Homo sapiens: one gene and its partners. The protein of the gene in region 1 purifies or fractionates together with the protein of each later gene. This does not show direct contact. Each region holds a gene or a part of one and is shown in the gene's direction. Other genes may lie near its edges. The genes, in order: RNF20, BRAP, SUPT6H, THUMPD3, MYO1E, URM1 and XPNPEP1.

What was found.
Region 2: the proteins of RNF20 (region 1) and BRAP fractionate together in Homo sapiens (co-fractionation; one large-scale study listed by BioGRID). This does not show direct contact.
Region 3: the proteins of RNF20 (region 1) and SUPT6H purify together in Homo sapiens (affinity purification with western blotting, with the first as the bait; one study listed by BioGRID). This does not show direct contact.
Region 4: the proteins of RNF20 (region 1) and THUMPD3 fractionate together in Homo sapiens (co-fractionation; one large-scale study listed by BioGRID). This does not show direct contact.
Region 5: the proteins of RNF20 (region 1) and MYO1E fractionate together in Homo sapiens (co-fractionation; one large-scale study listed by BioGRID). This does not show direct contact.
Region 6: the proteins of RNF20 (region 1) and URM1 purify together in Homo sapiens (co-immunoprecipitation; one study listed by IntAct). This does not show direct contact.
Region 7: the proteins of RNF20 (region 1) and XPNPEP1 fractionate together in Homo sapiens (co-fractionation; one large-scale study listed by BioGRID). This does not show direct contact.

The regions. Positions count from the first base shown.
Region 1 is NC_000009.12:101,554,353-101,557,852, forward strand, and holds part of RNF20 (E3 ubiquitin-protein ligase BRE1A), read left to right. Parts: intron 1-341; coding exon 342-491; intron 492-3,031; coding exon 3,032-3,244; intron 3,245-3,500. UniProt on the Homo sapiens protein: Component of the RNF20/40 E3 ubiquitin-protein ligase complex that mediates monoubiquitination of 'Lys-120' of histone H2B (H2BK120ub1).
Region 2 is NC_000012.12:111,661,957-111,665,456, reverse strand, and holds part of BRAP (BRCA1-associated protein), read left to right. Parts: intron 1-3,500. UniProt on the Homo sapiens protein: Negatively regulates MAP kinase activation by limiting the formation of Raf/MEK complexes probably by inactivation of the KSR1 scaffold protein.
Region 3 is NC_000017.11:28,675,705-28,679,204, forward strand, and holds part of SUPT6H (transcription elongation factor SPT6), read left to right. Parts: intron 1-452; coding exon 453-726; intron 727-2,010; coding exon 2,011-2,112; intron 2,113-2,371; coding exon 2,372-2,488; intron 2,489-2,840; coding exon 2,841-2,930; intron 2,931-3,116; coding exon 3,117-3,259; intron 3,260-3,500.
Region 4 is NC_000003.12:9,380,054-9,383,553, forward strand, and holds part of THUMPD3 (tRNA (guanine(6)-N(2))-methyltransferase THUMP3), read left to right. Parts: intron 1-449; coding exon 450-565; intron 566-3,145; coding exon 3,146-3,256; intron 3,257-3,500. UniProt on the Homo sapiens protein: Catalytic subunit of the THUMPD3-TRM112 methyltransferase complex, that specifically mediates the S-adenosyl-L-methionine-dependent N(2)-methylation of guanosine nucleotide at position 6 (m2G6) in tRNAs.
Region 5 is NC_000015.10:59,366,372-59,369,871, reverse strand, and holds part of MYO1E (unconventional myosin-Ie), read left to right. Parts: intron 1-3,500. UniProt on the Homo sapiens protein: Actin-based motor molecule with ATPase activity. Unconventional myosins serve in intracellular movements. Their highly divergent tails bind to membranous compartments, which are then moved relative to actin filaments.
Region 6 is NC_000009.12:128,381,374-128,384,873, forward strand, and holds part of URM1 (ubiquitin-related modifier 1), read left to right. Parts: intron 1-3,500. UniProt on the Homo sapiens protein: Acts as a sulfur carrier required for 2-thiolation of mcm(5)S(2)U at tRNA wobble positions of cytosolic tRNA(Lys), tRNA(Glu) and tRNA(Gln). Serves as sulfur donor in tRNA 2-thiolation reaction by being thiocarboxylated (-COSH) at its C-terminus by MOCS3.
Region 7 is NC_000010.11:109,868,012-109,871,511, reverse strand, and holds part of XPNPEP1 (xaa-Pro aminopeptidase 1), read left to right. Parts: intron 1-607; coding exon 608-781; intron 782-1,482; coding exon 1,483-1,559; intron 1,560-2,799; coding exon 2,800-2,898; intron 2,899-3,500. UniProt on the Homo sapiens protein: Metalloaminopeptidase that catalyzes the removal of a penultimate prolyl residue from the N-termini of peptides, such as Arg-Pro-Pro. Contributes to the degradation of bradykinin.

The DNA.
Region 1 (3,500 bases):
GTAATTCATTGCTACAGGGATAATCTTTTTCATTACTTTTGGGAGGAATGTCTTATGCTCTTAAAATTTTGAGGCCTAAAAAAAAGGATGGGAACCACTATTCTAAAGAAAGTTACCTGTGCACTTCTCAAAAGTGTTGCTTATAGAAGCATGTCATAGTAGAATGGAGTGATGTTAAAACAGATGGTGTTATGTAATGTTTTAGTATATTATGTACCTTGTTCTATAATTCTGTAAAGACTCTTTTGGTATTATGAACCTTCTATCTTTGCACAGTATTAATTGATTTTTGAAAATGTGTTATAACTTTTTATTTTTGTGCAATTCCTTTCCTCTTATAGTTGGAAGATCTAAGGCAAAGACTCAAGGATCTGGAAGATAAAGAGAAGAAAGAGAACAAGAAAATGGCTGATGAGGATGCCTTGAGGAAGATCCGGGCAGTGGAGGAGCAGATAGAATACCTACAGAAGAAGCTAGCCATGGCCAAGCAGGTGGACTCACTTTCTTTATTTAATTGACTTTTTGAGTAAATGTTACTTGACAATAAGTTATTGCCAGTGAAATTTGCTTTTTTATTTTGGTCTTTTTTTGATTGTTAATGTGTATTTTTCCTTTTTGTGTGTGTGTTTTAATTCTTACCTTCAAGTCTTTTATCTTTCTGTTATTTTGTTTTGTGTATTTGTGAGGCAAGAAATTTACTTTTATTTAAATGGACATTTATTGAAGATCTAGTCTTTCTCTGCTGTTGTTCAGACAGTTATTGAAGATCTAGTCTTTCTTTGCTGACCTGGAATTAAGGGTTATAGTGAATATAAAATGAAAAATAAGACATAAGATTTTATATACATTATGATTACAAATATATGAAACTAAGAAAACTATGCTTATAAATATATATCATTATATATTTCTATGTAGTACATATACTACACAGAAAAACTATGCTTATAAATATGTGATTTATATATAATAAGGATATAATCTATTAACCAATATAATAACATTGATTAAGCAGTATGTTAACTATGGCTATTTTGGGGTCATAGAACTATAGAGATTGTTCTCCTCCTTATAATGAATATGTATGTATTTTTAAATGCCAGGGAATTTTTATTAAAATTCAATAATAAAGATACTGAAAATGCTTGAAAAAACCATATATGTATTCTCTGTTAGTACACCTTCATTGTTTCTAAGAAATAGCAAAATAACAGTGAGATGGAGTAGGTTTAATGGTAAGTTGATCATGAAGTGCCTTGAAAAGAAGAACTTCATTAGATCCTATACACATTCCTTTTGTTAACAAGTGTAATTTTGGGCTGGGCGCGGTGGCTCATGCCTGTAATCCCAGCACTTTGGGAGGCCGAGGTGGATGGATCACCTGAAGTCGGGAGTTCAAGACCAGCCTGACCAACATGGAGAAACCCCATCACTATTAAAAAAAAAAAAAAACAAAATTAGCTGGGCTTGGTGGCGCATGCCTGTAATCCCAGCTACTTGGGAGGCTGAGGCAGGAGAATTGCTGGAACCCAGGAGTGGAGGTTGCAGTGAGCCGAGATGGCGCCATTGCACTCCAGCCTGGGCAACAAGAGCAAAACTCCATCTCAAAAAAAAAAAAAGTGTAATTTTGACTTTTCTTAAATCTGGTAAATGCCACTTTTTTTTTTCTTCCCTCTCTCTTAAGGTAATTATCAGGAAATTATACTATTATAGGTTCTAGAACAAGTAAAAAGAAAGACACTATGTTCTTGTATACGATGACTATCTTAAAAATGTTCAGTCTTTCTAAGTTTATGTATTAATATAATGTGATCTCATAAAAGTGCTTTTTTTAAGTTTTGCTTTTGTTTATTTTGGTACTAGAAGAACTGGTTTTAAAGTACATGTGGAGAAGTAAACAAGAGTAACAAGAGAAATTGAAAAAGAACAGCACTGGGGTCTCTTCCATATATTAAAACATAAAGTTTCTGTAGATGAAATAGCTTGGGACTACTAGACAGGCTATTAGAACTGAATAGAAACTTGAGAAGTAGTTGAAAGTACACATGATACTTATTATGTGCTAAATACATAGTTTTAAATCAGTGGGGAAAAGAAAAACTGTGACATGTGATGGGACAAAATTAAAAAAAATAATGTTAGAGAAAAGTTAGATACATACTTGAATACACTAGGATGATTTCCAAATGGATCATAGATATGATATTTTAAAAAATGCATCCATCAAAAAGCTAGAAGAAAACCATTAAATTCCTTTATAATTTGGAGTGGAGACCTTTCTATGAATAAAAGGCTAGAAAACATGAACAAAAAATTGATAATTTTGAGTTATTTTTTAAAATGATGCAAAACTTCTACACTGCAAAAAACACTGTTAGCAAAGCCAAAAGATTAAATGACAAAAAGTAAAAAATATTTTTAACTTTTATTACAAAGAAGGCTTATCTGATACAAAAAAAACTCTCCAAAATAGGGAAAAAAACTCAAGAATCCAGTGGAAGAATAGGCAAAAGAAATGAGTTGGTTATGGAAAGAATACAAGTGGTCTTAACCATATGAAAAGATGCTCAGTCTCACTTAAAATGAGATAGATATAAAGTAAAGCTATTATTAGATACCAGTCTTCACCTATCAGATTGTTACAAGGCTTTAGATGTTTGCAACTGCTGGAAATCCTGTAGATCCAGTATTTTAATTGTGGAAAAGCATGAGAAAATGTGAGAGGTTATGATGGAAGTACTCTTAACCAATTGCTGCTTGATCCGTTTGTCTAGATTAAGGTAAATACAATTATTGTCTAATTTAACTGACGTTGAGTACAGATCAACTAATAAGTATCAGACCAACAATTGGTGCCAGTGACTTCAGATAATAGAGCTTCTGTATGCCTAGTGACAAAACACAACTTCTTAAAACTCTGTCACTAAATTAATTTATATCTAAATGAACAGTGGGAAAATTTAGTTTCCTGTGCTCTTCCATTGAAGTTGGAAGATTCTTCTAAAATCAAATCTCTTCCTTCATCCTTTAGGAAGAAGAAGCACTCCTCTCTGAAATGGATGTCACAGGCCAGGCCTTTGAAGACATGCAGGAGCAAAATATCCGTTTGATGCAGCAATTGCGGGAGAAGGATGATGCAAATTTCAAGCTCATGTCAGAGCGTATCAAGTCCAATCAGATCCATAAGTTGCTTAAAGAAGAGAAGGAGGAGCTGGCAGACCAGGTGTTGACTCTGAAGACTCAGGTAATTAGGATGAGTAGAGCTTTCTATTCTGTTGAAATAGGGTGCTTTCTACATGATGATATAAGTAAAAGAATGATTATTGTGGCACATTTTTGTGATTGGAAAAAAATTTGAAAACTAAATGTTCATCATTAGGGTATTGGTAAATAAATTATACATCTCTACTGTTATTCCTACAAAAGAGTACAGTGTACTTGTCAAATATGGATCTGCTAATATGGAAACATGTCTGAAATAAAATCAAGTGACGTGTTTT
Region 2 (3,500 bases), on another chromosome or scaffold:
CTGATTCTGAACCCTTGTGGAATTCCCCAAAGCAGCATGAGTTGTTCTTTCCTTCCAAGAGCCAGAGAGTGAAAAAAAAAAGCAAAGCTTAGTTTGAGGCTCTCGTGCTGCAGTGAAATCTAGGTCTGGAATCTCATGTATCAGCTGCACTTGGTGTCTGCCATTCACTCTGGGCTTCTTATCAACTGGGCTACAGCAGCCTAATATTTTAGCTTTGCTGGGCTGTTGATGGCTTGGTGGCCAGTAGAAATAGCAGTTACTAAGTATGAGATCTACTCTACAGCCTCCTGATTCCCAACATACCAGGTCTTAGTCATAGGTGATGTTGCTACAGACAAAGAACAGGTAAGGCCTGTACCTTTTTTTTACCCCCTAAATCCAGGATGGTTGCTCCCTTTGCAGACTGCACTGTGGGACTTAACCAGAAAGGTGTATCAGATGCTGGCCTTCTGGATTTCCCAGTACAGAGGGGAACCCAGAAATGAAATCACACAAGTAAATAAATCACAGCCATAACCAGTGTTACAGAAGAGCAGTGTGCAGCATTGGGACTGAGAACTGGGGCCCTAATGAAGCCAGGACCACCTGAGAAGTGGCATCTCCAGGAGGGTAATTAGGAGTTAAGCCGGGTAAAGAGCAGAACCCAGAGAAGGCAGTGGGGGAAGGGGAAGATCATGTTCCCAAGCACAGAAGTGAGGAGGGGTGAAAGTCTACAGGAATCTCTGTCCACCCACAAGTGGCCTGGTGGCCGGAAGAAGAATATCAGCTTCACAGAGCGGGGGCCATGCCTGGCTTGCTCACTGCTGTGTCTCTCACACCTGGTGGGGGACGTGGCACACAGTGGTAGACACTGAGGAGCACATAAATAAACTGGGTCTCTGCAGCTTATCACTGCCCTGCTTATTTAGCTGGACAGGAGTCTTGCTCCAATTCCGTGGAGTCCTCAGTCAATTCTTAGGTATCATTTGGGAGTTTTCCAAGGAATTGTCCAGTTGCCTTGAACAAAGCCATACTGAGATATGTGCATTCCTTAAAGTGTTTACCTGTATCTTCAGTCCATCTGCTATACCAGTTAAGTTCTAGGCAATTCTTTGTTCCCCGCCACTCCAGTTTTACTTTTTTTTTGAGACAGGGTCTTGCTCTGTCACCCGTGTTGGAGTGCAGTGGTATGATCACAGCTCACTGCCTCCTCAAACTCCTGGGCTCAAGTGATCCTCTCGCCTCAGCTTCCCAAGTAGCTGGGACTACAGGTGTGCACCATCTCACCCAGCTAATTGTTTTTTTTGTTTGTTTTGTAGAGATGGGGTCTCGCTATGTTGTCTAGGCTGGTCTTGAACTCCTGAGCTGAAGCAGTGTTCCTGCCTTGGCCTCGCAAAGTGCTGGGATTGTAGGCATGAGCCACGATACCCATCCCCAGTATTCCTTTTGATATAAATTAACTGTTACAGAACCATAGCATTTTAAAGTTGGAAGTTTCCTCAGGGACCATTTTTTCCAACAACCTCATTTTATACAGGAGGAGGACACAGGCCCAAAGATAAGAATTTGCAAGCTCAAAGTGTCATGGCCAGAGAATGCCAGAACTGGGACTAGAATTCAACCTGTCATATGGGATGTAAGACATGCCATTTGCCCTCAGAATCATGCAGTTCATTTAATGAGTTTTGAGCCTTGGTACATGCATAGAACTGTGAGAGATGCTGAGACAGAGGAAGCAAATTCAGGTCCTCTTTGGGGTGGTTTGGTCTAAGAGAGTTTACACTTGGACATAAACACATGTGGTTCAGGGTGGAGATTGGAAGAGAGAATGATGGCATCCCCAACCAGGGGTACTCAGGAAGGGCTGCAGTAGGAGGCAGTGTTGGTCTTTTTGATAGAGATGTCAGAGAAGGCTTTGGGAAGAGCTCCCAAAGATCTCATCAGGAAAATAGGATAAAATAATTTTTTGCAGAGAAAGGCAGGAAGAATTTAATAAACTGTTAATTATTATTATTATTATTTTTTGAGATGGAGTCTCACTCTGTCACCCAGGCTGGAGTGCAGTAGCGTGATCTCGGCTCACTGCAACTTCCACCTCCCGGGTTCAAGCAGTCCTCGTGCCTCAGCCTCCCGAGTAGCTGGGACTACAGGCATGTACCACCACACCTGGCTAGTTTTATATTTTTAGTAGAGATGGGGTTTTGCCATGTTGGCCCAGCTGGTCTCGAACTGCTGACCTCAGGTGATCCACTCACCTCAGCCTCCCAGAGTGCTGGGATTATGGGCGTCAGCCACTGTGCCTGGCCGATAAACTGTTGATTATTTTTTAGTAGACAGATGAGGTAGTATATCATAGAATGCTAATTGTTTGTTTACAAGTTTATTCTTGTAATTTTTTTTTCTTTTCAAGATCAAATTTACATTTCAGAAAGATCGTTTTGATCATTTGGGCATAGTGTAGAGAATTAGATTTCAGAACCAGTTCTGAAATCTAATTCTGTTGTTTTTAGTTTTTTGTTTTTTTTTTTTTTTAGAAGGGCTTTTGCCACATTGGCCAGGGTAGACTTGGCTTCAAGCCATCCTCCTGCCTCGGCCTCTCAAAGTGCTGGGATTACAGATGTGAGCTACTGCACCTGGCCTGTTTTCTTATTCAACCACTTTCACAGCCACCACACAGACCGAAGGGATGAGACAAAGCCAATTTCTACTTTCTGCATTCTGCTTTCTGGCTACCATTTCTGTTCTTTCTTTGAGTTTGTCTTCTGTCTTCTCTTTTGATGCTAAAGGAAGAAGTGGACTAGATCCTTTCCTTTCTCTTACACAGATAGAGCTGTGTCATCTGTGACACAGTGTTCTTCCTGTTTATTCCATTTTCTTGGTTTTATTTACTTAGTTGGGTAACTGTTACTAGTTATAGCTTTTTTTTTTAGACGGAGTTTCGCTCTTGTTGCCCAGGCTGGAGTGCAATGGCGCAATCTCAGCTCACCACAACCTCTGCCTCCTGGGTTCAAGCGATTCTCCTGCCTCAGCCTCCCAAGTAGCTAGGATTACAGGCATGTGCTACCATGCCCTGCTAATTTTGTATTTTTAGTAGAGACAGGGTTTCTCCATATTGGTCAAGCTGGTCTTAAACTCCCGACCTTAGGTAATCCGCCCGCCTAGGTCTCCCAAAGTGCTGGGATTACAGGTGTGAGCCACCGCGCCTAGCCACTAGTTATATCTTGAGCATTGTTTCTTCCTGGTGCCAGTTCAGTCAGCCTCAGCTATAACCCACTTTCTGTCCTAGTTGCCCATCTAACAAAAATACTCATGACTAGTATTTAGTATTATTTTGTGTGGAGTATAATAGAAAACAGTTAATGGATTTTTTCAACATTGTTTTTATTGGCTTTTTGTAAATTGAGACATGAATGCCTGATAGAGCACTGGTATCTTCCACATGATGTTCACGGTGCAGTGAGATATCATGTGCATTTCAATAAGTACATTAACACCTTTGTGTTTAGCCAGGTGCGGTGGCT
Region 3 (3,500 bases), on another chromosome or scaffold:
TCCCACATGGGCAAGGCTCCAGCATTCCTCTTCCGCCTACAGCTCCATGTTTATTCAATTATATATATATTGACATTCTTAATATATTTTTGTTGGAAGACAAATGCCCGCATCACAATTTACAAATTTGAAAGCTTTTGCCCTGAGGGAATACTGTAATGCCTTAGCAGAAGATGGGTCCACTGAGCAAGACATAGACCCGTCTGCTCTGTTGCTATTTGATTACTGTCACTCGAAGGTGCCAAAGATGAGCTTTTTAATCTTCCATATACAATAGTTTGCCCAGAAATATCCGCCAATGAAGCCTTTCGTCCACAGTGAATATGGTTATTTTGTTTACCTTCCTCCTAACCCTCTCAGTTCCCTTGGGACAAGTAAAGGATCTATGCAAGGGCTGCATTTCTCTCCTCTCACCTGAACCTGAGCCACCTGCCTCTTGCTGCCACCTACAGGGCCCTGCAAGAAGCCCAGGAAATCTTCGGTGTGGACTTTGACTATGATGAATTTGAGAAATACAATGAGTATGATGAAGAACTGGAGGAAGAGTATGAGTATGAGGATGATGAGGCTGAGGGTGAAATCCGAGTGCGCCCCAAGAAGACCACCAAGAAGCGTGTGAGCCGTAGGAGCATCTTTGAAATGTATGAGCCCAGTGAGCTAGAAAGCAGCCACCTCACAGATCAGGACAATGAAATCCGAGCCACTGACCTGCCTGAGAGGTTCCAGGTAAAAAACCACCAGCCTCTGCTCTTCTACCAATCCATAATTACCTTGTAGCCAAGAAATATTCTAGCAAAAGTCTGGCATTGAGTATCCAGCACAGGTTTGAACCTCATCTCACCTGGGGCCTGGGAAATCCAGCTCTTAGAGAAGGGAAGATAGACTCTACCTTGCTTACGGTTCTAGAAATACTGTTTTCTTTAGAAATCTGTGAAATGCAGTCTGGGTGCTGTGGCTCACACCTATAATCCCAGCACTTTAGGAGGCCAGGGTGGCAGATTGCTTGAGTCCAGGAACTCAAGACCAGCCTGGGCAACATAGGGAGATCTTGTCTCTACAAAAAATACAAAAAACTAGCTGGTTGTGATGGTGCACACCTGTAGTTTCAGCCACTCAGGAGGCTGAGGTGGGAAGATTGCTTGAACTTGGGAGGTCACGGCTGCAGTGAGCCATCATTGCACCACTGCACTGCAGCCTAGAAGCAGACCCTGTCTCAAAAAAAAAAAACCATGAAATGCTTATGGCCAGGCACGGTGGTTCACACCTGTAATCCCAGCACTTTGGAAGGCCAAGGTGGGTGGATCACCTGAGGTCAGGAGTTCGAGACCAGCCTGGCCAACATTGTGAAACCCCGTCTTTACTAAAAATGTAAAAAATTAGCTGGGCGGCCAGGCACGGTGACTCACGCCTGTAATCCTAGCACTTTGGGAGGCCAAGGTGGGTGGATTGCCTGAGCTCAGGAGTTAGAGGCCAGCCTGGGCAACATGGTAAAACCCTGTCTCTACTAAAATACAAAAAAAAAAAAAAATTAGCTGGGCGTTGACAGCATGCATCTGTAATCCCAGTTACTTGGGAGGTTGAGGCAGGAGAATTCCTTGAACCTGGGAGGCGGAGGTTACAGTGAGCTGAGATCGCGCCATTGCACTCCAGCCTGGGCAACAGAGCGAGACTCCATCTCAAAAAAAAAAAAATCAGCTGGGCGTGGTGGCGGGCACCTATGATCCTAGCTACTCAGGAGGCTGAGGCAGGAGAATCATTTGAACTCCGGAGGCGGAGGTTGCAGTGACCCTAGATCGCGCCGTTGTGTTCCAGCCTGAGCAACAAGAGTGAGACACCATCTCAAAAAAAAAAAATGCTTATTTCATGCCAGAACAACACTGGTATGGCATTTGTAGAACAATACTGGAAATGTGCACTTGATGATCACACGTTTCTGTCCAAAAAGGTATGTTTTTCTTAAGTGAGACACAAGATAAAGTCCGTCTCACCCTGTTGTCTTATCCACTCCAGCTCCGCTCCATCCCAGTCAAGGGGGCTGAAGATGATGAACTAGAAGAAGAAGCTGACTGGATCTACAGGAATGCTTTTGCCACACCAACCATTTCTCTCCAGGTACACAAAAAAGATCCTTAGGTTTTGACATGAACCAAAAGACACTTCATCAAGATGGGGAGCTCTTCCTCCCCTATTTCATACATCCGTGTGCCTGGTATTAGAAAACTGTGTGTATGTAGTCCCAACAAGTGTGTGTATATGAGAAAAATTTTTTAGATTTCATCTAGAAAGGTTATCCTTTGTTATTAAGCAGTCTTGTATGGTAAGACAAACCAAGTAAACATTGTCTTGCTATTTCTTTATTTTCCTACTGTAGGAAAGCTGTGATTACCTAGACCGAGGGCAGCCAGCCAGCAGCTTCAGTCGGAAAGGGCCCAGCACAATTCAGAAGATCAAAGAGGCCCTGGGCTTCATGCGAAATCAGCATTTTGAGGTAACACCTCAAGCTCTGGTGGCCCATTGGTGAGAAATTTAGTTAGGGGATGAGGGAAAAGATAATTACCTAAATGAGGTGGGAGCCCCCTTCCCGTATCCCCTATCCATGACTCAACAAGTGTTAGGACCAGCAGAGACCCTAGTGATCGTAAGAACAATGCTACCCTGTCTGCAGCTTTATTTTCTCCTATTGAGGAAAGCACCAGGCCCTGGAAGGGCTGTGAGGGAGGCCAGGCTTCTGACTGTTGAATTTCCTGGAGCTGTTTCTCCAGGAAGTCATTATCTACTGACAGAGGGGATCTTAGCAAATCTGTCTTCTCTGAGTGACTGCAGTCTCTTTGCCATCCTAGGTGCCTTTTATTGCCTTCTATCGAAAGGAGTATGTGGAGCCTGAGTTGCACATCAATGACCTATGGAGAGTCTGGCAGTGGGATGAAAAGGTAATGTAGATCCGTGGCCCCCAAGAGGTGTGGGCCAGGGAAGGCACCATTACTACCAGGATACCACAAACCCAAACCCCCCAGGCCTGTCTAGTCCTCCCCCACTAGGTTTCTGGTAAGGATCAGAGCAGCCTTGAGTCTCCAGGGCTGAACACAAGCTCTCATTCCTGCCCTACTTCACCTTAGTGGACCCAGCTGCGGATCCGTAAAGAGAACCTAACACGGCTGTTTGAGAAGATGCAGGCTTATCAGTATGAACAGATCTCTGCTGACCCTGACAAACCTCTTGCTGATGGCATCCGGGCTCTGGACACCACTGACATGGAGAGGTAAAACATGCGGTGTTTATTCCATTATGGGAAGCCCTCAGACCCCAAGGCTGGCCCTGCAGGAGCACTGTTAAACCTTGGAGAATGTGTAGCACAGGGCCCCATCCCTTAGAAATCCAACTTGTCAACCAGGCACAGTGGCTCATGCCTGTAATCCCAGCAATTTGGGAGGCCGAGGCGGGCAGATCACTTGAGGTCAGGAGTTCAAGATCAGCTTGGCCAGCATGGTGAAACCCCATCT
Region 4 (3,500 bases), on another chromosome or scaffold:
ATCTCAAATATTTTCAAACCGCATTAACTTAGAATTTAGTGTGCCAGACACTGCTGGATGAGGAACTGAATAAAATACTAGACCTGACCTCAGAGAGCTCCCAGGTTAGTTGAGAGGCATAAAGGGGAAGAAATAATTAACCGTGGGACAAGTGCAGTGGCAGAGGTACGTACATACAAAGTGTTTTTGGGAGGGGCACATAAGACTGCTTGGAGAGTTAAGGTTGATGTTGAAAGGGCATGAGGTTTGAGCTGGGTCTTAAGAGATGGGTAGAGGTTCAGCAAGCAGAGAAAGAATAAGAGGGCATTTTCAGCCAGGGAAATAGCACAGTTGACAACATGCAATGTTTTGCCACTCTAGAAAAGCACTGGATTTTCTTTGTTTGTTGACAATTTAATCATATTTTACAGTTTGCTACTTTTGTTTTAACATACACTCTTATCTTTTAGGGGGCCACTGAATGGTCTGACTGTTTCCATATTGCTGGTGATAATAATCCACTGGCTGTGAATAGAGCAGCAAATAACATTGCATCTTTATTGACCAAGAGCCAAATTAAAGAAGGGTAAAAATTTAAAAGATTTCTTAGCATCTTTTAGAGTTAGAGAATCACTTTTTATATTGACTTTATGAATTAAAACTCCCAGTGCATTGTGACGTCATTGTAACCAAAATGAATATACTATGAGACTCCATTTACATTTTTAAAGTTTATTGAAAATAAGTTATATTTTTAAAATATTATTTTAGCGATAATTTCCCCACCATATGCAATTTTTCATTTGTCTTATTCATATGTCTTTTCCCCTACATATTGGAAGAATATTTTATAGACTCATTTTAATTTCACAAAATTTTAAACAGTATATTTTTACATAGGCTTCTTTTTTGCTTTGGGTACAGGGTCTCATTTTGTCACCCAGGCTGGAGTGCAGTGACATGATCATGGCTCACTGTAGCCTCAACCTACTGAGCTCAAGCAATCCTCCTGCCTTGGCCTCCCTAGTAGCTAGGAATACAGGCATGTGCCACCATGCCCAGCTAATTTTTTAAAATCTTCGTAGAGATGGGGGTCTTGCTGTTTTGTCCAGGCTGGTGTCAAACTCCTGGCCTCAAGAGATTCTGCCGCTTCAGCCTTCCAAATTGCTGGGATTAGAGACGAGTCACCACACCTGGACCATAGTCTTTAAAGTCACTACATAAATTCCATCGTATAGAAATACTGCAGTTTATATAGCCTCGCCTCTATTTTATTACTAAGTCATTGGTTATATATTTCATTGTCTCTCTGATCTAATTTTTTAGGACAGTGCTTCTCAAACATTAATGTACATGTGAATCACCTAGGAGTACTGTTAACACAGATCTGATTTAGTAGTTTGGGATGGGACCTAAGAGTCTGCATTTTCCAGGAAACTCCAGGACAATGCTGATGCTGCTGGTCTATGTATCAACATTAAATCCTTTTACGTGTATTAAGACAAGTAGTTGGAAGGCTTCAATTTTCTTAAATACTGATTTATTGTGATGAATTAATTTTGAATGGTTGTTTCATATTTATTGAGGGTTTTTTTTAATGAGCCTAGTATATGGCCAGTCTTTTTTTTTTTTAATTAAAACTGATAAACATTTAAACAAACGTACCTTTCTAGCTTCTGAATATTTTATCTTGTTTGTACCTACACTGTCTGTTCAACCCGTACTTTTTTTTTTTTTTTTTTTTTTTTTTTTTTTTTTTTTTTTTGAGACGGAGTCTCACTCTGTCGCCCAGGCTGGAGTGCAGTGGCTTGATCTCGGCTCACTGCAAGCTCCGCCTCCCGGGTTCACGCCATTCTCCTGCCTCAGCCTCCCAAGTAGCTGGGACTACAGGCACCCGCCACCATGCCCGGCTTATTTTTTTTTTGTATTTTTAGTAGAGACGGGTTTTCACCATGTTAGCCAGGATGGTCTCAATCTCCTGACCTCATGATCTGCCCACCTTGGCCTCCCAAAGTGCTGGGATTACAGGCATGAGCCACTGTGCCCGGCCTCAACCTGTACATTTCTATCCATTTTACTTTGGTTTTTAATATTTTTTGCCTTTTGTTTTGTGCAGTTATTGGTATGCGGTTATAATACATATTTTATGTGTACTTTTAAAAATTATGTAATGATTGCTTTTATTGCATTTTTTTCTTAAATTCTTCATTAAATGTCAATTAAATCCTTAATTTCTGCTGATAACCTTTGACTTATCTTCAGTTCTTAGCCTGTGCATTATTTTGTTTCTTAAACCAGTTGCTTTGCCTTAATGAGGAGGATTTAAATCCTTTGTATTTATTATTATTCATTCTGTCTTCTGTCATCTATATTTTTTATCTTAACTTTTTTCTTAGTCTTGTTTTATATAGCATGGCACATATTTTCCTTTTGGTTTTTCATCTTGAAACAATTACCTATATATTTGCCAATTTTACTATCTGTTTTTCTTTTAGGCCTCCTGTTATTACTAGTTTTACAAACTTTATTCTTCAGATACATCACCCCATTATCTATTCTTTAGTATTGTTTTTCTCCAGTGTATGTTTTATCAGCAACTTAAATTTTTGTATCATCGGTTATGTAATTTACTGCTTCAGCATTGTTTTTAAAGTTGTCTTTTGCAGTTCTCTGCATTACAATCATGTTTTCAGTTTGTTTCCCTTTTTTCTGAGACGGGGGTCTTGCTCTGTCACCCAGGCTGGAGTAAAGCGGCACAATCCTAGCTCACTGCATCTTTCAACTCCTGGACTCAAGTGATCCTCCCACCTCAGCCTCCTGAGTAGCTGGGACTATAGGTGTGTGCCATCATGCCCTGCTAACTTCTTAAAAAAGTATTTTAGAGACAAGGTCTCACAGTGTTGCTCAGCTGGTCTCAAATTCCTGGAGTCCAGTGATCCTCCCACCTCAGCCCCTGAAAGTGCTGATTATAGGCACAAGCTACCATGCCCAGCCTGACCTATTTTTTACCTTTGTGCCATTTCTTAAATTTTGAATAGGTTGATATTATCACTGATATCCTTAGCAGTTTATGTTTTGCTGTAGCAGTCTCTCTTCAGAAACAAAAATTGTTGTAATAACTTTATGCTTCACAGTATGTTGAAGCACCTTTCCTTTGTCCCCACAGCAAACCCTCCTGGGGCTTGCCCATAGATGCTGTTCAGTGGGATATCTGCAATCTGCCATTGAGAACTGGCTCTGTGGATATTATTGTAACAGATTTGCCATTTGGAAAAAGGTGAGAAATACTAGTACCTGCTTGTCTTCTAAATATGTCATTATTTTCCTTGCGTTTATTCTAAGTCAGGAAAAAAATCTTGAATTTTAGCAGACTTAGCAGAGCTGTTTTTCACTTAACAACATGATGGATTCACCCATTATGTTTCTTCCGAGAACTCAGGAATGTATTAACTACATTTGGAATCCTGACCATCATGGGAGGTTCATTTTTAAATTACCTGTAATTCACTTTCTAGCCCATT
Region 5 (3,500 bases), on another chromosome or scaffold:
TCTGGTAGCATAGTAGGAGGGCTCTCCATCTGTACCTGAGGCCCTACTAAGACTCATTCAGTTGTGACTCATAAGGAAAATAGCCATTTTCATTTTCTGACTCATGAACACAGTGTACAGCTTGTAGTTCACCTTCTATCTTCCTCCTGAAAACTCACTTTGGGACACTTTTCTATCTTGAGAAAACTAGGAACACTACCAGGCAATAGTTACTTGTGTCTTTTTCCTAAGGAGACTTGAAGAAGTTAAAAAAAACCCTGCACATCTTTATAATTTAGTGGAGGTTGTTTAGCAGAGTACAAAAAAATCTCTGTTGACTTTAACCGTAATACCCATCTAAGGCTTCCTTCGTAGAATCTGGGCTTATCATCATCTGCAAAGGAAGTTCTGCTTTTGTGGCCATGACCAGTTTGGACTCTCTGATAGACTGAAACCCATGGCTGTAGGTCCGCTATGTGCTTTGGATCCAGAAATTGTGATTGATTTTTATGCAAGGTTTCTGTGCATTAAATATACAGAAATATTTGAGCAAATCTGAATTGACCATCACCTCAAAACATGTTCAAGAGCTGTTCCCTTTTCCTTACTTGCATATACTTGTGAGGAAATTATAGATATGACACATAAGAATACCCAGGAATAGATTTACAACCTAGAAATCTGATGGATAGCTGATGATAAGGTAGGTAAGTTCCTTTAGGTGATGGCATGGCATGTATTTAGAAAGTCTGGAATACATTTCAAATGTTTCCTGGGAAGGTAACCTACTTGATTTCCACAGATTAGTTTATCAGATTGCTAGTAGTCTCCTAGTCAAAACAACACAATACAACAAAACAAAACCAGAAAGGAATGGGATCAAGCACAAAAAAAGTTTTGATGGAGGCAAAGCGTTGGGGAAATACCTAGAGTCCGGGACATTATCTAGGGACAAGTGTGAGTGGGCCATCCTAGTGGGAAATATTTGACAGCCCAGGCATCTCCTTGGAGAGAAAATGGGTGGAGCAGTGGATGGAGAGGGATGGAGAAGTATAAGAAGCAGACATTTACTGAAGTTGAAAGTCACCTCCACCACACTTTTGCTGAGGACTACAGTCTTGTCAGTGGTTGCAAACTTTTTTTTTTTGAGTTGGAGTCTCTCACTGTCGCCCGGGCTGGAGTGCACTGGCGCGATCTCAACTCACTGCAACCTCCGCCTCCCGGTTTCAAACGATTCTCCTGCCTCAGCCTCCCAAGCAGCTGGGATTACAGGTGCCTGCCACAACGCCCAGCTAATATTTTGTATTTTTTAGTGGAGACGGGGTTCCACTATGTTGGCCAGGCTGGTCTCAAAGTCCTGACCTCGTGATCCTCCTGCCTCGGCCTCCCAAAGTGCTGGGATTACAGGTGCCTGCCACAATGCCCAGCTAATATTTTGTATTTTTTAGTGGAGACGGGGTTCCACTATGTTGGCCAGGCTGGTCTCAAAGTCCTGACCTCGTGATCCTCCTGCCTCGGCCTCCCAAAGTGATTACAGGCATGAGCCACTGTGCCCGGCCAGTGGTTGCAAACTTAAATGTCTTATAATTTGGTGGAGGGAGGCTGGCCTCTAGAGAGTAAATATGGAATATATGTGCCATTCTAGGAGGCACCACTACTTGATTCTAGGCCATGGTTATATCGACCATATTACCAAATTATCTTGTTTTTCAAGAGAAACTAGAAATCTAGATTTTTATGCTATATCTGCCAGTTCTTATTTTTATTTATTTTGAGACAGAGTTTTGCTCTTGTCGCCCAGGCTGGAGTGCACTGGCGCGATCTCGGTTCACTATAACCTCTGCCTCCCAGGTTCAAGCAATTCTCCTGCCTCAGCCCCCTGAGTAGCTGGGATTACAGGCCCCACCACCACACCCGCCTAATTTTTGTATTTTTAGTAGAGACAGGGTTTTACCATGTTGGCCAGGCTGGTCTCAAACTCCTGACCTCAGGTGATCTGCCCGCCTCAGCCTCCCAAAGTTCTGGGATTATAGACGTGAGCCACCACGCCCGGCCTCTGCCAATTTTTATATGTGATTTGATCATCTCAGAGGGGCCAAACACAGCTGCAGATTAGCTGTTTGCAGCCACTTTATTGTAAGTCTTAACATGGTGTCCTTCTGTGAACCACAGTGATTCTTCTCATTCACTCACCAGGAAGAATGTCTAAACGTTCACTGCATACCCAGTAGTGGCATTCAGTATTTATCCATACATCCACACCTTCCTACTGGGTCTCCCTAAAGAGAGGGAATAGCCTGGTATTTTCAGCCTATGCATTCTCTAAGCTATTATAACAGGGAAAATCTGCATCCAGCTGCTACTGTTTGGCGCTATCTCAACACCTGTGTAGGATGGTTCCACGAGTGGTGAGGCTGCAAATTGAGCTTTTCTCTTCAACCCTTCAACTCCTTCCTCCACTGAAAATGCCATGGCCTCCAATGTCACATGATGGACTTCTTGTTTTTCACTCCTTTTTCAGTTGAATCTCATGAATTGGCGGTCTGTCTCAGGCGTTTTCCTGAGGGTTAGATAATGAGCAGCGGCGTGCATTCTGATAACTTAGAATACAACATTTTGCCTCTGTGCCTAGTGTGGGCATGTGATGAGCCCCTGTGAGACTCAGTGAAAGAACATATAGTACCTTGCGTTTCCTCATGAGCCAAGTGTGGGGCCTTATTATTCATTAGGAATTTGAGAAATCTCTTTTTATCTGCTTCAACAAGCAGAAATATTTTAAATCTTCTGTGTAAGTGCAAGGTATTATAAGCTTCATGGTAGGATATATAGGAATTATGTACAGTCATGGTTTTCCAAGTTTGAGTCATCTCTTTTTTTTTTTTTTTTTTTTTTTTTGCGAAAATGCAGCAACTTGTGTTTTTACCAATCTGTGATTAAAATGTTTCTTAATGGTGAGTTTTTAAAAACTTTTTTTTTCTTTTTCTCACCATGCTGAAATATTTACAAAGTAAATAAGAGGTTAAAGGTTAAATGCCAAAGGTATTAAAATAAACATCTCAGCCTTATAAGCACATTCTGTAATAGTGGTAAACAAATTGTGTTTTGAATTTCAGTTTCAGAATTTATGTTGGCAGAGACAAAAGGTTTTGGGGCATCCTAGCAAAGTATTTTTTTCATATATCTTTGGGACAGCCACACTTAAGAGAAGTACAACTGTAAAAGCCAGCCCTAACATAGTGACATGAACTTTGACAACCCATAGAACTCAAACTGTACATGTGAATGAAGTTGGCCCGCCCTTCTGAGTTACCACCATGAGAATGACGTCATTGCCGTTGTTCAAAGCACTTTTGAATGGTCATTTATGAGCTATGTAATAAAACCTATTTTTTTGCCGGGTGTGGTCGTTCAGGCCTTTACCAAAAAAAATTTTAAAAATTAGCCACGTGTGGTGTCATGCACTATAGTCCCAGCTACTTGGGAGGCTGAGGTGGGAGGATTTCTTGAACTGAGGAGTTCAA
Region 6 (3,500 bases), about 27 Mb from region 1:
AGGTGGTCAGCAGAGGTCTCTTTAAGGAGGTAACATACCAAGGCCAGGTGCAGTGGCTCACTCCTGTAATCCCAGCACTTTGGGAGGCCAAGGTAGGCGGATCACCTGAGGTCTGGAGTTAGAGACCAGCCAGGCCAACATGGTGAAACCCTGTCTCTACTAAAAATACAAAAATAGCTGGGCATGGTGGTGGGCACCTGTAATCCCAGGTTGAGGCAGGAGAATCGCTTGAACCCTGGAGGTGGAGGTTGTATAGTGAGCCGAGATCGTGCCACTGCACTCCAGCCTGGGCGCAGAGCAAGACTCCGTCTCAAAAACAAAAAACAAAACAAATAAAAGGTAGAAACCAAAATTTAGAGAAGTCAGGGGTCTCACCCCAAGTCATAGAGTTATTTAAATAGCAGGGTTGGGATTCAGAACTAGCTTTCAGGCCACTGAATTTCAGAGTCCTGGCGCTTTGCCACTAACCCATCACCGTCTATCCCAAGAGGCTCCCTGAATTACTCTAACATCTTACATTTTCCAGTTTTTACGCTTTCCTTCATTTATTTATTCATGAGTTCAACAACTACTTATTTCAACTTTCAGATGACCCCAAGAGATAAGAGACCCCTAAAAGAGAAAGAGAAGGAGGGAGGGACCTGAGGCCTGCCCAGAGTTACCCAAGTAGGGAGGCTGGGCTGGGACTCAGATTTTTTTATCCTTCATCTTCCAGCCACTGTTCAGGGAACAGGCAGGGGCCTATCCCCACTCTGGGAAGAAAGGAGGGGAGTGGGAGGGAAGGCACAATGGCCCACTTAGTCTTTGGCTCCTTTGCTGTGAGTCCCTACACCTGGTTCCTGTTGTGCCCAGAGGCATGGGTCACACAGCAGACCCATGGTAACCTAGGTTGGTGACCTAGGTCACCAACAGAGCTGGTTAGCAGCTGCCAGGCCTCACCCTGGCACATGTGAGCCCAGCTGGGGGTCAGGGGCCTGGTGCTGCTAGGAGAGTCTTACCCTTCCCCCAAGTCCATGCCCAGATATGTCATCTGGCAGACTTCCCAGCCTAGGGGCTGCCACTTGGCCAAGCGAGTCTTGGAGGTTCCAGCAGAAATAATAGCAGCCGTAAGATTTCAGAATGTGACAAGCCTCACAAATGAGGGAACTCGTGGCTCCTAGGCCAGGGGAGAGCTTCCAACCCAGCCAATTTGGGAGAAATGATGAGCAAGGCCTGAGGGAGTGAGACTGCGAGAGAGGAAGCCTGGCACGCGCAGTTGCACATCACTTATTCCTGCCAGACTCTTTCTTCCCTATCTGTAAGATGGGAGGTTGGGCTCGCTCTGTATGTTATTGAGCTGGTTGTCTCTTTGACATCTATAAGAAAAGTTTCTTCAAGATCCAAGTATATACAATTCGGTGAAGCAGAGTGTGCTGACCCAGTAAGAAGTTGTGTGAGAGAAGGGATGTCTTAACAGCCATCTCGCTGAAACGGCCATGCAGGCACCCACCAGCTTAGGGTATTGCGGCTGCTGGGAGTTGGCCTCTGTGATTCAAGCATCCCTTTGACCCAAGGCCCCCTGCCCAGGCCCCAAGTGTAGACATGGCCGCCTCACCTTTCCCTGCCTGTCTTCCCCTGTCCTGCCTTTGTGCCCCCTCTGCCTGCTCCACTTGTGTTAAAGGGTGGCTGGTGAGGGAGGGCAGGAGCTGCAGGAGCTCCTGGGCGCTTTAAACTGCTTAGCATGCATTTCACAGCCTCTCTGGGGCCAGCTGTTCCTTTCTCTGCTCTCAGGGCCTGTTTGCTGATCCCCTCTCCACCTCCCTCCTCCCCACACCCCTCCCAGTCCCTGTGCAAAATTGCTTTTGAAAAGATCCACTTTCTGCTTAATTAAACAATGAGGAGGTCCCCTCGCACATCTGTAAACCTCCTTCTGAGGCCAGTTTAGCCCACAAACTGCTCCATTCTTACCCCCATTCACTTGTAAATGGCCCCTCTGATGTTCCCTCCACCCCCTCTCCTCTGTTACTCCCCCCTTGCCAGCTCTTTCTTTTCCCTTTTCAACTGAGGCCTGGGGTGGGCTCTCCGAAGAGCCGTCTTGGAGCCTGGTGGACTTGGTGGGGACAGAGGCAGTTTAACCTGTGGAAGAGAAGACTTAGGGGATCCTTTCTTCCAAATCTGAAGGGCCATCCTGGGGAAGAGGGGGTGCATTTGTTGGCATGGTCCCCGTGGACCATTCAGGCCCAGTGGGTGGGAATGACAGGAAGACAGATTTCTGCTTGGGAGAAAAGAGCTCTTAACAATCAGAGCCGCTCCACAGAGGAGCTGACCTCCTGTCCCTGGAGGTGTTCAAAGAGAGGCTGGATGAGGGTCTGTTACGCCTGCGAGTCAATATCAGATACGACTTTGAGGTTGTTCCGTTTCAGTCCCACGAGGCTGAGGCTGACACCCTTTGGGGCCCTCCCACAGTGGGCAGTCAGTGTCCCCCAGAATAGGACAAGTCCACCGGGGCGAGGGATTCTGGTGGAGCTTGCGTCGGTGCTCTCCACAGTGGGTATCCTCCCTTTGGCAGCAGCCTTTAGAAGGTACTGGAGCCCAGAGGATGAGGAATCTGAAGTCACTGTGGGCTTACAGCTCAGAGCAGCCATCTGTTGAGCGTGTCCTGTGTGTGTGACACTGCCAGGCCTGCCTTGGGCATTGTGCCTTACGTAATCCTCAGCAGCTCTTGGTGTTTGGATTATTATCCCTGCTTGTCAGAGGATGACACTGAGACAGCAAGATGAAGTGACTTCCTAGCTAAGGCCATCGAGCACACAGCCGAGGTCCTCTGGCTGTAGACTCAGAACTCAACCACTCCAGCATAGAGCAGCAGCTCTCATTGCCTGCTCTGCCCCCGATGGGCAGGCCAGGTGCCAAGGTATCCTGCACTGGAAACCTTGTATTAAGTGCCCATCTCCTTCCTCTGGTGCTGTGTGCCCGGGGGCAGCCTGGCCGCCAGCACCTACAGACTCAGAGTGTCATTCCTACCACCTGGGTTGTACTGGGAGCATTGGCCAACCCCAACATCTTGTGGGTTCAAACATCTAACACAGAAGGAAGGTCAGTATCTAGGACCCCTCACTACTCTCGCAGTCCCCTCATTCCCTTTCCAGCTTCTGATGGGAAGATACGGGATGCCACAGAAAACCCCAGCCGGTCCCAGCACTATCTGATTAATGGTTGGCTCTACCTTGCCCTCTAAAGCTGAGGTGCCAGGCCACTGGGCAGAGCGTGCAGAAACCCAGAGAGCGCGAGGGGTATAGGTTCTTCCTCTGGATCCTGGAGTAATTACAGCATTGATATGCAGGGCACAGTGCTGAGAGCTTTGTATATATCGTCTTATTTGATCCCCCACAATGACCCTATGAGACAATGTTAACATCCCCATTTTACAAAAAAAGGAAGCCGAGGCTTCCTATTACCTAAGGTAATAGAACTAGTAAGTGATGGAGTCCAGCTCAAAACCAGGCCTGTCTGACTCCAGG
Region 7 (3,500 bases), on another chromosome or scaffold:
ACCAGATATGAAGGTCACAGGGCCTGAGTGGAAGTTGGTGCAGCCTCCTGTCTGCCCTTTAGTACTGGGCCAGTGCTTCCTTTCGGGATTCTTAGGATTTATTTTACTGGGACCCTGACTTCAGCTATGTACTACTTTGCTTGAGGCCTGGTGGGTGGAGCATTGGACTGGGCATTGACAAGACCTGGGCTGCCTTGCTTTTGGGTAGATTAGACATGTACTCATCTCCCTAGGCCTCAGTTTCCTCATCTGTCATGCCTGCCTGTCTGCTTGCAGTCTGGTTAGAGTCTCATCTTTGTAATTCTGAAACCTTAGGGTCGCAGAGCTGGCAAGGGAACGTCCATGTCTGATACGGCCTCTGTGTGCTGTAGGTGTCTATCCCCGCTCACCAGCATCCTGAATGGATGATCGCCTAGCTTCAGACTGAGCTCTGATGGTTTCTCAGGAGCTCTGATTGTTAGAAAGTTCTTCCTTGTGCTGTGCTGAAATCTGAACCCTCCAGTAACTTACCTATTGGTTTCTGTTTCACGTTCTGGAGCCACACATAATAAATTTAATCTCTAAAGCGCTGTACAAATACAATTAAGTGGCTCTTTATGTCTTTCAGGTCACCTTCTTGACTCCTTTGCCCGTTCAGCTTTATGGGATTCAGGCCTAGATTACTTGCACGGGACTGGACATGGTGTTGGGTCTTTTTTGAATGTCCATGAGGGTCCTTGCGGCATCAGTTACAAAACATTCTCTGATGAGCCCTTGGAGGCAGGCATGATTGTCACTGATGGTAAGTGTCCCTCACATAGAGGGCATGCGTGGATCCTTGAGCCTTTTTGAAAGCTATTCGTTGTTTTGTATTTTTTAATTAGTTTAAAGTAAATTGGCAATACTTTTCCCTTCCAACAAACTTTTCTGATTATAGAACTGATACATGTTCATTTTAGAAAAAATGAGATGGGAACTGTGTAAAAAGAAAATGAAAATCATTTGCAATCTAACCACTCAGGGGAAACATGACTTAGTGTTTTACTGTATTAGCTTTTGGTCTTTCAGGTATGTAGATAGCATTTTTTTTTTAAATCATTGAGATCTTACTGGGCATCTTGTCTTATGTTCTGCTTTCTTACTTGATACATTGCCTTTTCTCAGGTCATTGCCAAGTCTTTGTAAATATATTTTAATGCCTTCATTATTGTGTCTTACGGATGTGAACCATGATTTATTTAGTGGATCCACTGTTACTTTACTCCTTACCCTGTAGCCAGTGTGCAGGGACTTCAGAGTCTAGCTTTCTGCACCTCAAGTGCCTATAAAAAAGTGGCCATATGAGAGAAGGTGGCATCTCTAGGCTCTTACACCAGATAGAGTGGGCTCTTCACCCGTTTCTTCTCCTTTGGAGTAGGGCAGTCATCCAAGGAGTGAAAGTTTCTCTCTGTAGACATCTTCATCGTGGGCTGCTTCTCATTTTTGGGATTTGGTTTGTTTTAGAGCCCGGGTACTATGAAGATGGGGCTTTTGGAATTCGCATTGAGAATGTTGTCCTTGTGGTTCCTGTGAAGACCAAGGTGAGGATTTATTAAAAAAATTTTCCTGTTTCTATTAGCAATAATCACGCCTCGGATAGACCTCATTGGCTACAATACTGCCACTGCGCAAAGCTTAAAAATTTTCCTGTTTCTTAGTGTGGGAAGATGAAGACTTAATGTCTTTGGAGCCAAGAGTATGCCATTCTGGGGCCAACATGGAGCCTTCTTCTCCAGATATCAGGGACTTTCCTGGAAACCACACTCCTTCCCTGCAAAGCCAGAAAGAAAATCCTTAATGAACTGGGATCTAGAACTGGGATTCACAGACCCTCAGGCTGATGCTTGCTTCACATGATTTGGGGCTCTGAGTTTACTATAGGCGGCCTGTTGTCTCTTCTGCTAGGGGTGCCTATTCAAGGCGCTAATTTCCAGGGCCCCTCCCAGACCCTAGAATTTCCAGGGTGGGGGGCCTGGAAGCTGTAATTTTGTCACACTCCCCAGGTGACTTTTATTAGGTAAAGTTGAGGAACCCTGAGTTATCCATGGGTCAGCCTCAAAGGCAATACAAGACAGGTGTTTCACCCTCTTCCCCCATCAGTGTTACCAAGGTTGCAGGGTTTTAGGCTCTAGGCTTTACCTAAAAGACCTGTTTGTGCCTCCTCCATTGGTGGAATTGAACAATTGGAGGGAAGTAGCTTCCTGTGTCTACAAGGAGGTTAACTGCGGGGATCTGCTCTCTGCTTTGGCATGGAAGTCACTATTCTTGGAAGTGACCTCCCATCTTATTCCCAAAAGCTGCCATGAACAGAAACCCGACATGTTCTTGTGTGCTCCAGTGGATAGATGTGTTGTCGCCTGATGGGCCTGGCTGGGTCAAGGCAGACCACACAGTTGACTGTTATAAAAATGATTTTGAGGACTTACACCCCTGCATCCTGGAGAACCAAAACCAGAGATGCCCCTAAGCCCAGATACCCCCATATCCTGCCCCTGTTTCCTATCACAGTAGACATTAGCCTTGGGACCTGTTGCTGGGAGCCCCTCAGCACCCTTTGTTTGGCCTTTCCTGATGGCACAGGCCATTGTTTGCCCAGTGGAGGAGCTCTTGGAAAATGGCATCAGGTTCCTTGTGTGTCTGTGAAAAGTGGTGACCAGCTCACCACTTCTTGGCTCCCAGTTACCCCTGGCTCTGAGGGATGGCATGCTGGTGGAATGACCTCATGGTGCTTCAGCATAGTAAAGAGGAGTAAAAGCATCTGTTTTCTTCTTTCTCCCGCAGTATAATTTTAATAACCGGGGAAGCCTGACCTTTGAACCTCTAACATTGGTTCCAATTCAGACCAAAATGATAGATGTGGATTCTCTTACAGACAAAGAGGTAATGGGGAAGTCTTGGTGGGCAGGCATGTTACTAGGGGAGGTGGAGACTACCTTAAATAGTTCTAATCCATCCTCTAAATCCTAAATTCTCTAATCCAGTCTCACTTTGTAATTTTTAAATTTAGAGGTCTAGGCCAGTTGAGTCTGAAAGCCCTAGGTTTTCTGAGGACTCCTGAGCTTTTCCTGTATTTGTTGGGCCTCCAGGTGGAGATAGTCCTGTTTCCCGCAGCCATTCTGGGGCTGTAGGGTTTGTGGGTGGAACTCGTATGCCATTGTTTGGCTGTACTATTCCTCCATAGCTGCAGTGAGGCGTGTTTAGCAAATATGAGCCTATGTGTGTCCCTACAAAAAGCCAGATGGATGGTGGGGCCTCTTGGCCACTGTACATACCAGATTGTTTTCTTGTGTTACATGAAACATTAAGGAAATGGAAAGCAAAATCTATTATCGTATGTCCTGTTTTCACACAGACAAGGAGAAAGATAGTACCAGCCCTTCTCGGTTACTACTGTGGTCACTCTGGGGCAGTGAAACCCTTCACAAAGCCTGGGGCACAACAGTGCTTACTTGCCCAGCTCAGAGGGTTATGGGTCTTAACTC